Regions from separate parts of the Homo sapiens genome. Here region 1 is linked to region 2. Evidence: fine-mapped expression QTL. A gene starts in region 2. The other region holds a variant in brackets. All regions are shown on one strand. Distances are between the middles of the regions.

Region 1 (8,319 bases), 43 kb after region 2:
CAGCCCCAACTTTGCCCGGAGTTTGCTGACAACAAGAGATACAAGTGTTAGGGGCTATTAAAGACACAGGGTGCCATGTGCATTTCCAGACAGACAAGAGGAGAAACAGGGTGGGAGTGAGTGGTCCCAAACACAAAGTCTGCCCCAGGCAGCCTAGGACACTGGGAAGGGCCCTGGCCTCCAAAGCAGGAAACATGGGCACCAGCCTGGTCTGCGTCTAACCAGTGAATGCCACTTTACTCTTAGGTTTTAGTTTTCTCTTCTATAAGTCAACTGTTGGCTAAGATGATTTAAACAATCTTTCCAACTCTGATTAGCACACTTTCATGTGAGAAAGCCTCCCCCGTGCTGGCCCCAGAGCCACCTCTCTTAGAAAAACAAAGTAGAAACAAGGGAGACAGTACTCACTTAGTCTCCTCGATGCTGAGTGAGGAGGCATCGCCTGAGCTAGTTTTGGAGCTGGCAGCTGGAACAAGAAGAAGCATGGCTCAGGAGCTGAACACAGGGCCAAGAAGCCAGCATCGTTGGCTCCAGCTGCAGGAACAAAAATGAGGGCCCCTCACCAGCACCTGGGCCTGCTGAAACACCAGAAAACAGCAGCTTCTTCCACCCAAGCTCCCCAGCAGCTCCTCTGCCCGAGTCCAGTCTCAGAGCCCTGCCTCTTCTGTGCACCTTCCTTTCCTGACCCAAGACATCCAAACTGCTGTAGTCACCACTCTGCCCTCTACTTTTTTCTTTCATTTTTAACAGACAAGGTCTGGGCCGGGTATGGTGGGTCATGCCTGTAATCCCAGCACTTTGGGAGGCCGAGGCAGATGGATCACGAGGTCAGAAGTTCAAGACCAGCCTGGCCAAGATGGTGAAACCCCGTCTCTACTAAAAATATAAAAATTAGCCAGGCACGGTGGTGCGCACCTGTAATCCCAGATACTCGGGAGGCTGAGGTAGGAGAATTGCTTGAACCCAGGAGGCAGAGCTTGCAGTGAGCTGAGATCGTGCCACTGCACTCTAGCCTGGGCAATGGAGCAAGACTTTGTCTCAAAAAAACAAAACAAAACAAAAAAAAAACTCTTCCTTTCCTGCATTCCCATCCTGCATCCTACCTTCTCCTTTATCTTAAAGGCTTCTCTCTCCACCTGGGCCATGGATCCCAACCTCTCCAGGCTCCCCAAGGTCACCAGCCTCCTCGTTTCTAAATCTAGTGGGTTCTTTTCGGTTCTGGTTTTGCTTGATCTCCTGTGGTATGTGGGACTGCTGATCGCTCCCTCCTTCTAACAATACTCTCTTCCCAAAGTTCCCATGACACAAAGGTTTTCCTGCCTTTTTGGTTACTCTGTCTCCTTTTTTTGGTAACATCTTTCTCTGCCTACTACTAACATAAGGGCATTTCTCAGGTTCTAGTCCTGACCCCCTCTTCTCATGTCACAGTCTTTCAGGGGCTTCACTGGCCACCCAGATACTGACTCCCAATGGCTTTATCCAGTCCAAACTCTGGATTTCCCCATTACCATCAACCTTGACAACCCCAAAAGTGAACTATCTCCCCCCACCCCCGCTCCAAATCTGCTTCTCTTCCCTACTCCTCAATTTCAGTAGAAATGACACCCACTACCTATCTGGCTGCTCAAGCCAAAATTCAAGGAGTCATCCTCCATTCCTTCTTCCCACCCTCATACAAGTGCTGAGTTCTGTTCATTCCTCCTCCAAAACACCTCTCCAACCTGTCCACTTCTCTCAATCCCACTGCTGCTGCCTTGGTGCAGGCCACCATCAGCCCTCCCCTGGCCTATAGCCCTCCTGGTTTCCTGGTCTCCAGTCCTGACTACCTTTGACTAAATTCTCAATCCAGTGATGTTTACAAAATACGGATCTGAGCAACTCACTCCTCAACTCACATCCATGGCTCCCTACTATCCTCAAGACAATCTACAGTTCTTAACAGAGACTACAGTACAGGGTCCTTTGTGTTCACATCCCTGTCTATCTTACTCCCTCATTTCTCTACCATGCGCCCTACACGATTCGTCCAATACCAGGTTTTTCTTGCCTCTGTATATGCTGACACTACTTCATTCACTCATTCAACATATTTATTGAGAATCTGATTGTACCAGACAACTGAGGAAAACAGAAGCCCTCTGTCCTCAAGCAGCTGAGTGGAGAAAGTCAACCTCTAATCCTAAACAACCGTAGAAAGACTTTTTTCTTTTTGAGACAGAGTCTCGCTTTGTTGCCCAGGCTGGAGTACACTGGCGGGACCGCAGCTCACTGCAGCCTCTAACTCCTGGGCTCAAGGGATCCCGTAGAAAGACTATTTAATAGAGCTGGTAAACAGCTTGGGGGTTTCCTGGCCTGAAGAGCTTCGCTGACACTGCGCGCACACCCAGACCCACGCGTTCCGGGACCCCCGCCCGACCCGCCCCCTGCGCAGGCCCCGCCTCCTCACCGGCCTCGTAGCCGTCATCGCGCTTCTCCCGCTTCACGCGCCGCTCGGAGGGCTCTGCCTGGCTGCGCTCCCGCCCGTGCGTGCTGCTCCGGGCCTCAGCTTCGGCCCCGCGCCGCCCGCTCCCGCGCTCGCCCCCACGTTCCCGGCTCCGCTTCCGTCGTTCGCCACCGCTACCGCCACTGCCGCCACTCCGGTGCTTGTGTTTTTTGTGTTCCCGGTGCCGCGGCGGCTGCTCGGTGGCACCCCCGGTGCCGGCCGCCGCCGTCGTCCCGGCCGCCTCCTTCTCTCCGCGATGCTTCTTGGACGACCCCATAGTGGCACGTCCACTCCGAGCCCGGCTGCCGCCGAGCCCAGACAACGCAAAATGGGAATACTTCCGGGTCGCTCGGCAGCCGCTGTCGTGTTGCCGGAAACTAAGAGCGGCTGCTTCCGTCGCTCGCCTTGGAGCCTGCCCCAGAGGCTCATGGGAAGGCCGGGATCAGCGCTCGACTGCACATTCGCGCCGTCTCGGGTCGGGTGGGTTCTTTGAGCGAGTGGTCCCATTGCGCATGCGCTCCTCAAGGGAAGCGGAATTAACCCGGAGGTGGGATCCCAGAACTGGAAGGACTTAGAGCCCATTAAGTCAGTGTCTTCGTGGCTTTAAGTTCCTCCCCGGCCTCCCTGCGCTTGCACTTCACCGGCAACGGGGTGTTCACTACCTCACGGTCTTTCCGTAGACACCTCCCTCCTACAATGGGCGCTCGCTTAGTGGACTCCTAGGGTCGTGGCTCCAACGGGTGTTGTTTTCCCGAGATCTCCAATTCCACAGCCCAGCTTCAGACCCGCTATAACCAGTATCGTCAGGGAACGCTTCCTTCCCACGTTCCCTGTTTTGTTTTGTTTTGTTTTTTCCCTTGAGATAGGATCTCACTCTGTTGCTCAGGCTGGAGTGCAGTGGCGTGATCACAGCGCACTGCAGCCTCGACCTCCTGGGCTCAAGTGATCCTCCCACCTCAGCCTTCCCAGTAGCTGGGACTACGAGAGTACGCTACCACGCCCCTTTAATTTTTGTATTTTTTTGTAGATGGTTGGTGGGGAGCGGGGGTAGGGGGTGGGGTCACTATGTTGGCCAGGCTGGTCTCGAACTCCTGAGCTCAGGCTATACACCCGCCTTGGCCTCCCAAAGTGCTGAGATTACAGGCATGCGCCACTGCGCCTGGCCCTGGATTGGATTTTTAAAACCTGGCCCCGTGAACTGTTAAGATTGTTTAGGAGCTCCACATGGGCGTCAGTGTATCCCTGGAACCCCTGAAATTGAATGCAAAATGTGGCACATCTGTGTGTATGAGTTTTTTTCTTGAGGAGACCAGCCCTAACTTAAAACTATTGGGACTTAAAACCCCAGTGCAGGCCGGGCGCGGTGGCTCACGCCTGTAATCCCAGCACTTTGGGAGGCCAAGGCAGGCGAATCACGAGGTCAAGAGATCGAGACCATCCTGGCCTACATGGTAAAACCCCGTCTCTACTAAAAATACAAAAATTAGCTGGGTGTGGTGGCGCACACCTGTAGTCCCAGCTACTCAGGAGGCTGAGGCAGGAGAATCGCTTGAACCTGGGAGGCAGAGGTTGCAGTGAGTTGAGATCACACCATTGCACTCCGGCCTGGTGACAGAGCGAGACTCTGTCTTAAAAAAAAAAAAAAAAAGCGCAGTGCACACAATCCCAATCTCTCCTGAAACCCCTCCCCTCACCCAGTGGTTGCTCAGTCTGTGGCTCCCTGTGTGGC[A/G]CAACTCAGCATGTGTTAGGCTATGTTGTATGCGCCCCTTTAAGGATCCACCCCCTCTCCCACTCACTGGGCGTCCTCAGAGGCAGGAGTCATTTCATCTTATTCATGCTTGAATTTATAGGACCCAACATATACATTGGAGATGGGGTGGAGAAGTCACAGCTCTTGCTCTTTGAGATGTCCCCACTCCTCAGGAGCAGAGAAGGGGCTGTGTGTACTGGGTGGGGGGAACCAAAAGAGCCAAAGCTCCTGGTGGGGAGGGGGTGCGGGGACAGAGCTAAGCCTGCTGCCCACCCACCTGCCACCTCCAACTTCCAACCCGTAGCTTCCACCACCCCCACCACCAGAAATCTCATACTGTGTTTGCCATAAAGCCTTTAATTTTATCTCAGGGACTGCACTCCGGGTCCAGGCTGGGGTTGTAGTGCCTGTCAGGCTGGCTGCCGGTGGGTTCTGTCCTTGGGGGCCTCTGAGGAGAGTGCTCCATTCTCACCCCCATTGACCTGTGGCTCCTTCAAGACACAGATAGAGGCCCCTGACTCTGCAGCTCCCACCCCCATGCCCAAGGAAACCACTGACAATGTGGCTTCAAACCCTGCTTCAGTGCCGGCTTGCTGTGTGATCCTGGGCAAAGTGACTCTTCTCGAGTCTCACTTTCCTTATTGTCAAGTGGGCTTCATAATCGCTGCTCTGTACCAGGTTATTCTAAGGCATGGGGTGACCAGCGTGGTGGTGCCAGCCCCTAATGAGGGACTTGGTGTGTGGCCGCTCAGATGGTTGCAGAGTCCCAGACTGGTTCTGCTGCTTGTTCGCTCCTGCGTCCTTAAAGAAGGCCCTTCCCCTCAGGTCCTTAGTTTCCTCATTGAGAAGTAGGAATGACAACCCTGGCCTTGCCTTCCTCTGGGCTCTCTGCCTGTCCTGGGGGAGGCCCTCCAGAGCCCAGAGTGCTGGTGTGGGCGCCCCTTCCCGCAGCAGCATGGCAGAGTCAGTTCTTGACCTGACGGGGAGACTCACCTGGGTTTCCTGGGGGTGCCCTCTCTGTCCACCTTTCCTGCCTCAGACAGCAGCTGCTCCTCATCCAGCCCCAGTGCTGACAGCACCTGGGAGAAGCGCCGAGTGACGGTGAGCCGGGCATTGGCCTGAGGAGAGAGAAGACGGCTTCCTGCTCTGCACCAGGGCTGCCGAGGGCAAGGTGGGGATCGGGTTACTGAGGGGGTCCCAGGGATTCCAGAGGGCAGCAGCCCTGGGATCCTATCTGCAGGGACCTACTCGCATCCTGCTTCCCTACCCACTCAGCCAGCTCTTCACAGGGGGCAGCTATGTGCTTGCCCAGGTGCCAGCCTCACCTGCATAGCCTGCTGGAACAGGAAGGGCCGGGCCTGCACCCTGTGCTGGATGCCTTGCAGCTCCGCCTGGTACTCAGCAAAGCGCTGTCGCTCCTGGCGCCTGCAGGGGAGACAGGCCTTTGTGCAGCTAACCATGGACACAACTGTTGATCTCCATTCCTGAGCCCGCTTATCTTCACTAAGGACTTGATATTCATGTCCTCACCCTCACCTTTACAAAGCTATTTCATTCCCATTCTTGCCTGGATTCCTTGTGAAGTCAGCCAAGGTGGAAATTATTCACCCAATTTACGGATGGATCGGGAGGGTTGAGGGACTTGTTCAAAGTTGTGCAGCTGGGAAGTGAGGGGCCGAGCCCTGTGCAGCTGGGGCTTGCCCATCCTCCTGTGCCAGCCCCATGGGAAAGGGGCCAGTGCTGGCTTCTGAGCTTCCAGACACGTGCTTACATAGCTTCCCCTCCCCATCCTCTTTCCCTTGAGGGGGAGCTGTGGTTGTTGGTTGTGTGACTTTGGGTGAGGCCTCTCTCTGGGCTCTTGGCTCTGGGCTCAGTTTATTTCACTGTGCTATAGTAGGGATCGGACAAGCTTGCCAGCATTCTCTGTGGTTCTTGTAAGCAGACAGCTTGGAAAATGGGACAGAGAAACTAAAAAAAAATATGTTTCAAATTTAAAAAACACACCCCTGAGAGATCAGGGTTCCACTGGGGAAGCACAATTTTCATTTATAAAAACCCAATTTGGCCAGGCGTGGTGGCTCGCACCTGTAATCCCAGCACTTTGGAAGGCCAAGGAGGGTGGATCACTTGAGCCCAAGAGTTTGAGACCAGACTGGGCAACATGGTGAAATCCTGTCTCTACAAAAATTAGCCAGACATGGTGGTATGCACCTGTAGTCCTGGGTAGTTGGGAGGCCAAGGTGGGAGGATCGCTTGAGCCTCGGAGGTCTAGGCTACAGTGAGCTGAGATTGTGCCACTGCACTCCAGCCTGGGCAACAGAGCAAGACCCTGTCTCAAAAAACCCAAAACCCAGTTTGTGCACTTGTCAGAAATGTGTCTGTTTGACAAACTTGAGTATCACTGCCACTCATGAAGAGAGCACTCTAGCAGCAAGAGGGACCTTCGAGCCACACCCACATGGGACCAGGCATCCATCTGTGAAGCATGTAAGAGAGGCCTTGAGGTGTGGAGGCAGCACCCATGGACAGGAGGGGAGGGAAGACGCAGACAAGAGGACAGGAGGGGAGGGGAGACACAGACAAGACCCCAAGACCTGTACTGGGACCTCAGCGATTGTGCTGGGCCCGGTGGAAAAACTCAGCCTTGCTGGGCCATGCCACCCTTGCTGTGGCCCTGTGCCAGGGAAGGAACCATCCTTCATTGAGAAAAAGACATGGACTTGAAAACCCATGGCCCGGAACACAAGTTACTGCAAAAACGGCTTTCACCATTTAGGAAGGAATTTATGGCAGTTACAAGGGGAGGTGGGAAATGAGCTGGCAGTCCCTATCTTTTCTGTGATATTGTGTGCACTTTTCCTGCTGGATACTTTATGCTATTTCTGTTAGAAGTGACAGGAGCTGGCCGAGGCGGGCAGATCTCGAGGTCAGGAGATCGAGACCATCCTGGCCAACATGGTGAAACCCTGTCTCTACTAAAAATACAAAAGTTAGCTGGGAGTGGTGGCGTGCGCCTGTAATCCCAGCTACTTGGGAGGCTGAGGCAGGAGAATCGTCTGAACTGGGGAGTTGGAGGTTATGGTGAGGCGAGATTGCACCACTGTACTCCAGCCTGGCGACAGAGCGAGACTTTGTCTCAAAAAAACAATGACAGGAGCCCTGAGCAGAAAGGGAAGTGGTGCCTATGGGTGTCAGCCCCGTCCATCATCTCAGAATGGAAGGAGACACATCCCTCCCTCCCACAGGACAACCTCTTTTGTGCCTGCCCTTCCTAGGCAGGACAGAGTCTCCTGTTCCGCTCAGACAGCGAAGTTCATAGGCTGTAATGGCTGAGAGACTGCATGGGAGATACCTACTTATGCCTTAGCCCTCTCAAATAGAAAGTAAAAGGAGTGAGGTTGAATCACTCTTTTTGCTGCACCTGCCACTTGGAGTTCTGAACCTTACACTTCCTGCCTCACTGTGAAAACAAAACACTTGGCTGGGCGCGGTGGCTCACGCCTGTAATCCCAAAACTCTGGGAGGCCGAGGCAGCCAGATCACTTGAGGTCAGGAGTCTGAGACAGCTGGGGCAATATGGTGAAACCCTGTCTCTACCAAAAATACAAAAAAATTAGCCAGGTGTGGTGGCGCGCACCTGTGGTCCCAGCTACTCAGGTTGCTGAGGCAGGAGAATTGCTTGAGCCCGGGAGATGGAGGTTTCAGTGAACTGAGATCACACCACTGCACTCCAGCCTGGGCAACAGAGCAAGATTGGGAAGGAGAAAGGATCCCCCTAAACATTGGCCCAAGCAGTCCCCCAAAACACACTTGACCTTTCAGAGCCTCTGTTTCCAAATCTGTAAAATTGGGGTGATTAAGACTGAGCCTCGGCCGGGCGCGGTGGCTCACGCCTGTAATCCTAGCACTTTGGGAGGCTGAGGCGGGCGGATCAGCTGAGGTCGGGAGTTCAAGACCAGCCTGACCAACATGGAGAAACCCTGTCTGTACTAAAAATACAAAATTAGCCGGGCGTGGAGGCGCATGCCTGTAATCCCAGCTACTCGGAAGGCTGAGGCAGGAGAATTGCTTGAACCCGGGAGGCAGA
Region 2 (8,276 bases):
GCCACCAGTCAAGGTTGGGAGTGACAGGAAAGAGCCCTGGTCCCCACAGGGAGGGGCCAGCCTGGAAAGGGATCAACAGTCACAAGCACCTGCTGGGAGCCTTCCATGCTCAGCAGGCTGCCGGGGGCAGGGCTTGTGGTGGTCCAGGTAGCCTCCCCCTACTTCCTTTCTGGGGGCAGCAGGAGCCCTTCAGCACCCCAGAGTGCATGGGCTGGGTTCACACGAAGTTCTAGGCTGGCTCTGAGCACTCATGACTAGACCAGCTGAGGGGGTCAAGCTCTGGCTGGGTGTGATGGGGGGATGGGGTCAGTATTTGCTGATTTCTGGGCCCACCTATGTCCCAGGCTAGTGGGTGGCCAGGCATGTCCTCTTGGACACCACGGGCTGACACTGAGACAACCTGACTCATACCCCTCACCAGCCAGGTCTGCTTTCTGCGCCAGCATTCCAAGCCGTGGTCCCTTTGTCCTGCTGGCTGAGTCGGGCTGGATCTGAGAGGCCACACTGTCACAAGGTACATTCTAGATGCCCTTTGTCTACTGCTGTCCCAGGACAGAGCCAAGAACTTGTGTGGGATGCAATATGGAGTCCTGATAAAGGGTTTGTGGCCTGCCACCTGGTATATGCACTGCCTGTGCCCCAAGGGAGAGGTGAGAAGGCAGGTTCCAGTCCCTTCTATGGCAAAGCCTGTGGGTGAGCCGGGAAAGGCAGACAACAAGGAAATAAAGCAGACAGCATGAGCCGCAGGCTTCCAGCAGGGTCCCAGTGCCACCAGGCGAGGCCAAACCAGGAGGCCAGCGTGGGCAGGAGCCCAGGGAAGGGCTTCATGGAGGAGGAGTCTCCATGACCTCACAGAGCACCAGCAACAAGCTGGCAGCATCAGGACTGAGGTGTGGTGAGGCCGGAGCCCTGCAAAGCCCCCACCTAAGCACACAAGGCCTGCGACAGCATCATAGCATGAGGGTCAAGGCTGAGGGGACTTAGCCGGGAAGACATCAGAAACAGTCTGAAACTCAAGAGAGAGCCCTCGTGACCACCTCAGCCGGGACTCAGACCAGCAGCCTCCCAGGAAGCGGCTTGAAGCACAAGCTGGGCCCTGCTGCAGTCACCTGGTGTCCCTTTCAAGCTGGGCCACTCGCACTTTCCAGTCCCAGCCTTGCACAGAACTCTCATCCCTACAAATAACAATTTAGTTTCTGACCTTTCACTCAATCGTTCCAGCCTCAGGTCTTTATTTTTGGTTTTCCTGTTATCTTTCTATTGTTGAGATGTAGCGAATACACTGAAAAGGGCGCAGAACATACACTTTTGGTCAATGCCTGTACCACCACCCCATAGGTCAGAAACACAGGTCAGGGTAGGCCAAGCCTACCCTTAAGCCCTTCCACACCCTCCCCCAAAGATAATCCCTGTAGACTTTTTCCTTTACTATTTACCATAATCATTTCCTTTGTTTTCCTTCTAGTTTTACCATCTATGTAGGAATTCCTAAGAATTTGTTTGTCTTCATTTGCTATTGAGATTCGTGTTGTACACAACTATCATTTGTTCATTTTTACCTCCGTCCAGTGTCCGGTGGCATGAGTGCCTATTTATCTACTCTAGTATTGACAGCCGCTAGCGTTGCTCCCAACAATGCAGCTGCAAACTCATCTAGGTCCTGCTGCAGGTGTTCGGGACTTTCTTCAAGGCACAGTCCTGAGAGTGGAACTGCTTGGTCACAGGGCGTGTCAGTTTTACTAAATAACACCCAACTGTCTTCCCAAATTGTTTAGACCAATTTATACTCCCACCAGCTAGGTATCAGTTCCTGTTGCTTCATTATCTCATCAATACTTGGTATTGTCCAACTTAAAAGTGTTTGCCAGTCAGGTGGGTGTTAATGGCATGTGATGTCTTATTACTAGCAATATGGAGCACCTTTCCTGTGCTTATTTACTGGGAGGGAACCCTCTTCTGTGGCCGTCTTAGATCTTTTACCCATTTTTCTGTTGTTTTTTTTTTTTTTTGAGACAAAGTTTCATTCTGGTCACCCTGGCTGGAGTGCAATGGCCGTGATCTCGGCTCACTGCAACCTCTGCCTCCCAAGTTCGATTCTCCTGCCTTAGTCTCCTGAGTAGCTGGGATTATAGGCGTGCACCACCACACCCGGCTAATTTTTGTATTTTTGGTAGAGATGGGGTCTCACCATGTTGGCCAGGCTGGTCTTGAACTCCTGACCTCAGGTGATCCACCCACCTCGGCCTCTGAAAGTGCTGGGATTACAAACGTGAGCCATTGCGCCCAGCCAGTCCGCTTTTTTCTTGATTGCAATTCTGTATGTGCTATGGAAATAGTCCTTTGTTGTTTATACTGCTGCAAATATCCTTTCCCTACAACCACCTCATTTTCCAAGTGGAGAAACTGAGGCTCAGAGAGGCTAAGCCACATGACCAAGGAACACATGGCCGGGTCCCTGGGTTTCCAAGCTAGTTTGAGTTCCAGTCTGGCTACTTCCCAGGAGCAAGTCCATGGGCAAATTAGCCTCTCTGAGCCTCAAATTTCCTCACCTGTAAAGGAGAAAATATTTATTACTGTGAAAGAAAAAAATGTTTGCAAAGATTTTAGCTTCAAGCCTGGTTCATACTAAGTGTTCAAGAAATAATAGGGCTGGCCGGGTATGGTGGCTCACACCTATAGTCACAGCGCTTTGGGAGGCTTAAGGATCGCTTAAGGCCAGCATGGGCAACAGAGCAGGGCCCTGTCCCTATTAAGTTAAAAAGTAAACAAAAAGAACAGGACTAAAATGTACTGAGGTGTACTCCCCTCACATCCTTCCAGCTGTGATGCCTGTGCTCCTTCTCCTCCCTAAGAGATCATGGAAGATGGCAAGCACCCTGCCCACCCTTACAGAGGCCGGGAGAGCAGATGATGACTGGCAGGTGAACTCTCACCCACATCCGGCCCACCCTGTCTGGTACCTCTGACTCCCACTGACTTTTCCACCAGGTGCTGCCTAGCCCAGCTGTTGACTTAACTGACATCTGGAGCACAGTCCATCTGGCTCCCAGGAAAAGATCCACCCACACCCTCTCCCACATCACTCGGGGATTGAGACAAAAGTCACCTGCCTGAGGCCTACATGGCTAGGGTGGCTGCCCTCTGGGAGTGGAAGGGAAGCTGCCAGTTTCGGTCTCTACTGATAAGGAGTGAGGGAAACATGGTCAGTCCCTGAAGGAGAGGCAACTCCCAGCCCACTTGCTTTTCAGTGCACAAAGCCCAGTCATGAAAGCCACTGACTTTATTGATCTAAAAAACTTTACAAGGACAGTGACTGTTCTGCCAAAAAAGGAGCCAAATGGTATCAAACGGATTGAAAGTGAGGGTGGGGGTGAGGGATGGGGCCGGGAATCCATTCAGGAAAGCTGGTAACTGTCACCAGGGAACTGGCAAGGGAAAAAGGACGGGGGAGGCATGCAAGAGCGAGAATCCAAAAAAAAGTTGAAATGGTTAGGGGAGAAAACTCCCAAAAGACCCCGGAGTACGTCGGAGGTGAGTACGACAATAGCAATCTTTTCCTTCGTAGAGGACAGGGGAGGAGTCCCTACTCGGCTGCAAACTCTGGATGAGGGCTGGGGATTGAGAGCTTCCCAGAGAGCATCACAAGAAGGCGTCGCACCACTCTCGAAGGCATCCGAAGCAGTCCCGGGACTGCTTGGCGTTGGCGCCACAAGTGTCTTTCAGCCATTCCCGGAAGAGGTCTTCATCTTTCTTTAGCACCAGAAACTGGCCAAGGACAACATAGGCCTGCAAAACAGGGAAAAGGAAGGAGCGTGCTGCTCAGTGCTCAGTGAGAGATAAGAGCAAGACAGCCATTCCTGTGCCATTCAGAGCACACAAGCCCAGGAAGCAGCGCGGGTTTTGCCCCCCTCTCCTCTCCACCAGGTGCCCAGGCTCTGGCAGCCTCTTCAGATTATACCTTACTGTCCATCCCCCAGCAGATGGAATCACTTCCCTTCCACCCCCCGCTTGCACTAGGTACACGCAGCCACCCCACACCTTGTCAAAACCCCTTTCCTCCAGCTTCTTGCCCAGGACTTCACCAATCCCAGCCAGGCTCCCCACTGGCTTCTCCCCCATGGGCTCTGCCACGAAGTCTCGGTGCTTTTGGGAGGTTGTCATCTTGATCAGGCTTAATCTAGGAATCCCAAAAAAAAGGCAGATTAGGGCTGAAGACCTGGAACTTCTAAGGGCCCACGAGCAATCTCATAGTAAGAGGAAGCCAAGCCAGGGGTTACAGTGGCTTGCTCGATCCCCCTCATCCTGAAAGGAGAAAACAGTTCCAGGGAGACTCTTCCCTACTATTTTTAAGAGGAGTTTCTTCCTGCAGGACCTGGATTTTGATCTTGCCCCAGAGGAAAAACGATCCTGCCTAACAGGTGGCGCAAGCGGGGCAGTGGAAAGATGCCCAGAGTCCGTAGCCAGGGCTGCGCGGAAGCTATCACTCCCTCTGTGACCTTGGCTGAACCAAGACGACACTGCCTGCCTGGAACGGCCACTTGGCGTGGAAAGCTAACCAAAGGGTCTCTCTACCTACAGGGCGAAGCGCACACCTAGCGCTGCGCACACCCGCTCCCCGCCCGCGGGGTTCACGCCGCGCCCCAGCTCCGCCCCCACCGCGCGCCGCTGCGGCCCGCCCCTTCCCGCGGCCCGGCTCCCACGCGCTGCACCCCGCCCCCTCCCCGCAGCGCGGCCAAGCTCTCCCCCAGGGCCCGCCACAGCGCCTGCGACCCCTCTCCTCCCCTTCTCCCCGCAACCCCTCTGGCCTCCAATCAGGGCCCTGCTCCGCGGCTGGCGCTCACCCGCAACTTCAGTTCCCGTAACGGTTCCTCCCGCCACCCGGCCGCTCCTGCGGATACCTCAAGCCACTAGAACTTTCTTCCACTTCCGCTTCCGGGTCGCTTCAAGAGCCGCCTTTAAAAAAGAAACATTCCACGTTGGGCACTTCTAGCCAGTTAGAGCTATAGAGTTGAGGCGCCCCGGACCTCGACGGCGTCCTTAGTAGGCGCTCCTTTCCGGTCCTTCGCGGGAAGCCCTGCCTTCTAAGGTCTCGCTTCTCGCGCAGTTCTGAGGGAGATAGGCCTCCAGGGAGAGGACTTCCTTTCTCTGCTGCCCGGACCCGGAACTCAAGGACTTAGGCTTGACGGACCTGGCGTGGGGAAGAGTTAGAAGACGGACAAGGGAGGGGACGGGAGGCCTCCGAGACAGCGCCGGAAGTACGGTTTTCGGAGGGATCAGACTCAGACTCACGTCGCACTCCTCGCAGTTGGACTGGTGGGAACTGGGAACACTGGAGACCTGATTTCTAACTGACGCTACCGTCGCGGCCGCCGGCAAGTTCCTTTACTGTGTTTTCTTGGTTCAGCCTTGAAGTGAGTCGTGGACGATCCTCTCTCAGCGTCCAGCCTAGACGGCGGTGTTGCTCCGGCAGCGTTCCTGGGAGCCGAGGGCCAGAGACTAAGTGTGGGTGTTTCTCTGAGGGTCTTTTCTCCGGGATAGACAGGGAGGAGGAAGGAGGACAGCAACTAGAGACGACAGTGTTTCTTTCGGAAACCATCAGTCTTAAGGGTACTGGCCTTCGTCTTCTAAGTACGCAAGTCAGAAATATGCAAATGTCGCAGACAAGCCTGCTCACCTCAACCTTTAATTAACTAGTTCCTGGCTTGAACCATCACGGTGGCCACCTAGTTTGTCTCCGGCTGTAGTGTGTTGCCAGACTGAACTTCTCTGTTGTGTGACTATGCTAGACTTGGGGTGTACAAGCGTGTTGAGAAAGATACGGTTTATTTCAAACTCCTTCCAGAGAGGTTGCCAGGATGACTTCTCTGGAGCATGCGTATAGTTTTATATTACACTAGTACTTAAGATTATAGGAGTTACTTTTTTTTTTTTTTTTTTTTTGAGACGGAGTCTTGCTCTGTCGCCCAGGCTGGAGTGCAGTGGCGCGATCTCGGCTCACTGCAAGCTCCGCCTCCCGGGTTCACGCCATTCTCCTGCCTCAGCCTCCCGGGTAGCTGGGACTACAGGCGCTCGTCATCACGCCCGGCTAATTTTTTGTATTTTTGTAGAGAGAGGGTTTCACCGTATTAGCCAGGATGGTCTCGATCTCCTGACATCGTGATCCGCCCACCTCGGCCTCCCAAAGTGCTGGGATTACAGGCGTGAGCCACCGCGCCCGGCCGGAGTTACTTTTACATGACATGCATTGTATTGTCCCATTCTGTTGTAGCAGGACGAGTCGCAGACAGAACTCCTCAGACACCAGATTAAAGAAGGAAGAGGTTTTTTTATTCGGCCGGGAGCGTCGGCAGACTCGTGTCTTAAGAGCCGAGCTCCCCGAAAAAGAAATTCCTAGCCCTTTTAAGGGCTTACAACTCTAAGGGGTCTACGTGAAAAAGTCATAATAGATCAAGTAAGCGTGAGAAACGTGACTGGGGGCTACATACATCAGCTAACAGAACAAAAAGTTTTACAGTGCTTTCTCATACAATGTCTAGAATTTACAGATAACACCAGTAGTTTTGGTCAGGGGTTAATAATATTATTATTATTTTAGCCACCAGGGCCAGGTGGTGGTGCCAAGGTCGTCTAGCTATTTATCTTACTTCTGTTTCTTTCCAACTTTTTGCTTTCTCCCTTTTCTCCTGTCTTATAAACTAGGGAAAAGGGGAGGTTGGAGAGAAACTAAGAAGGCCAACAGGAGAAGTGGTGGCCTCATACCATACTGTAACAGTGCTGAGTTAGCTGTTATTTTTCTGGGACCTAGAGAAGTTGAATAGTTAGGAAATAAACCAAGGTAGGATTTGAATCCAGGCAGTTAGACTTCAGAACCCATGTTCTTAACCAAGACACCGTGTCACCCCTCAGTAAAAGGCCCCTCCCCATCTTCAGAACAGTCCTGGGTTCTGAGCCTGCCATCCAAGGAACTCAGGAGGAGGAGTTGACAGTCTCTTCGTTCCTAACCAGTGTGGGACGACTTCAGCATGTCTCAGGCCACCAAGAGGAAGCATGTGGTGAAGGAGGTGCTAGGGGAGCACATAGTGCCCTCCGACCAGCAGCAGATTGTCAGGGTGAGTGGCGTGGGGCACAAGCTGTTCTGCTCCCCACCCCTGCAGCCCTGGAGGGCCCCTGGGGTGGGGGTAGGGTGCAGCGTGTCTGAGAGGGTGTTTGATCTGACTGATGAGACTGATTCTTGGTCTCTCCTGAACCAGGTACTCAGGACCCCAGGGAACAATCTGCATGAGGTGGAGACAGCCCAAGGGCAGCGCTTCCTGGTGAGCATGCCCTCCAAATACCGCAAGAACATCTGGATCAAGAGAGGTGAGAGGATTACTCCTGTAATCCTGGCACTTTGAGAGGCTGAGATGGGAGGATCGCTTGAGACCAGCCTGGGCAGCATAATGAGACCTTGTCTCTACAAAAAGAAAAAAATTAGTTGGGCACGTGCCTGTGATCCCAGCTACTCAGGAGGCTGAGGCCTGAGAATCACTTGAGCCTGGGAGGTGGAGGCTGCAGTCAGCTATGATCATGCTATTGCTTGCCAGCCTGGGCAACAGAGCAAGACCCTGTCTCAAAAAAAAGAAAAAAGAGAGAGGTGAGAGAGGCAGCCCTCTCTAGGAGATAGAACCCCTTCCTATGGCTTTGGCTTTCCTTATTGCAAGCAGGCCTGACTTTGCCTTTTCTCTTCTTATCTACAGGGGACTTTCTCATTGTTGACCCCATTGAAGAGGGAGAAAAGGTGAAGGCTGAAATCTCGTTTGTGCTCTGCAAGGACCACGTGCGCTCTCTGCAGAAGGAGGGGTTTTGGTAGGTGGTCCCCTTGATCATTGGCTGTCTGGCTTCTGGAGGCATTGCCTTCCTAGCTTGGGAATTAGGGGAGGGAAGGTCATGGCATCCCAGGCAGACACAGCTGGAAGCAGCTCTTTTGTGAGAAATTTATTTGTCCTTTCTGACTTTGGCTCATCTCTTGGCATAGGCCTGAGGCCTTCTCTGAAGTGGCTGAGAAACACAACAACAGGAACAGGTGAGGAACAAGCCTTGGGGTGGGGTACATGGAAAATAAGGGGTTCATGCTTTGGTGCCTTGAGGGAAAAATAGAGCCTTCTTTCCTCCTTACATAGGGTATCTGTTGAGAGCTCCTAAGCATGTGGTATAACATGGTTATGAATGGGGTTTGAAGGTCAGATGCTCTGGGTTAAAATCTTGGCTTTGCCACTTAAAGCTGAATGACTTTAAGC

Direction of the effects. Alleles are on the strand shown, and positions count from the first base shown. SD is a standard deviation of normalised expression in the study named.
With allele G in place of A in region 1, the expression in fibroblasts of the gene that starts at base 5,255 in region 2 is higher (small effect, 0.35 SD a copy in GTEx).

Evidence for each region. PIP is the estimated chance that this variant, and not a neighbour inherited with it, causes the effect.
Region 1: its variant is fine-mapped to the expression of EIF1AD in fibroblasts (GTEx, PIP 0.99).

Annotation. Positions count from the first base shown.
Region 1 is chr11:65,956,221-65,964,539 of GRCh38, reverse strand. TSGA10IP (testis specific 10 interacting protein) reads right to left here. Exons shown (of 8, transcript NM_152762.3): 6 at 5,558-5,657; 7 at 5,226-5,350; 8 at 4,574-4,723. The coding sequence ends at 4,600. It overlaps SART1 (spliceosome associated factor 1, recruiter of U4/U6.U5 tri-snRNP), which reads right to left and starts at 2,806. Exons shown (of 20, transcript NM_005146.5): 1 at 2,447-2,806; 2 at 409-466; 3 at 1-25. The coding sequence starts at 2,759. RefSeq lists an enhancer at 2,161-2,948. The variant A/G (reference allele first, on the strand shown) is at 4,212.
Region 2 is chr11:65,999,136-66,007,411 of GRCh38, reverse strand. EIF1AD (eukaryotic translation initiation factor 1A domain containing) reads left to right here and starts at 5,255. Exons shown (of 6, transcript NM_001242481.2): 1 at 5,255-5,502; 2 at 6,907-7,109; 3 at 7,251-7,359; 4 at 7,737-7,845; 5 at 8,015-8,062. The coding sequence starts at 7,023. It overlaps BANF1 (barrier to autointegration nuclear assembly factor 1), which reads right to left and starts at 4,909. Exons shown (of 3, transcript NM_003860.4): 1 at 4,842-4,909; 2 at 4,039-4,177; 3 at 3,263-3,786. The coding sequence starts at 4,161. The coding sequence ends at 3,640. RefSeq lists silencers at 1-54, 4,548-4,887 and enhancers at 3,374-4,180, 5,188-5,557, 6,659-7,158.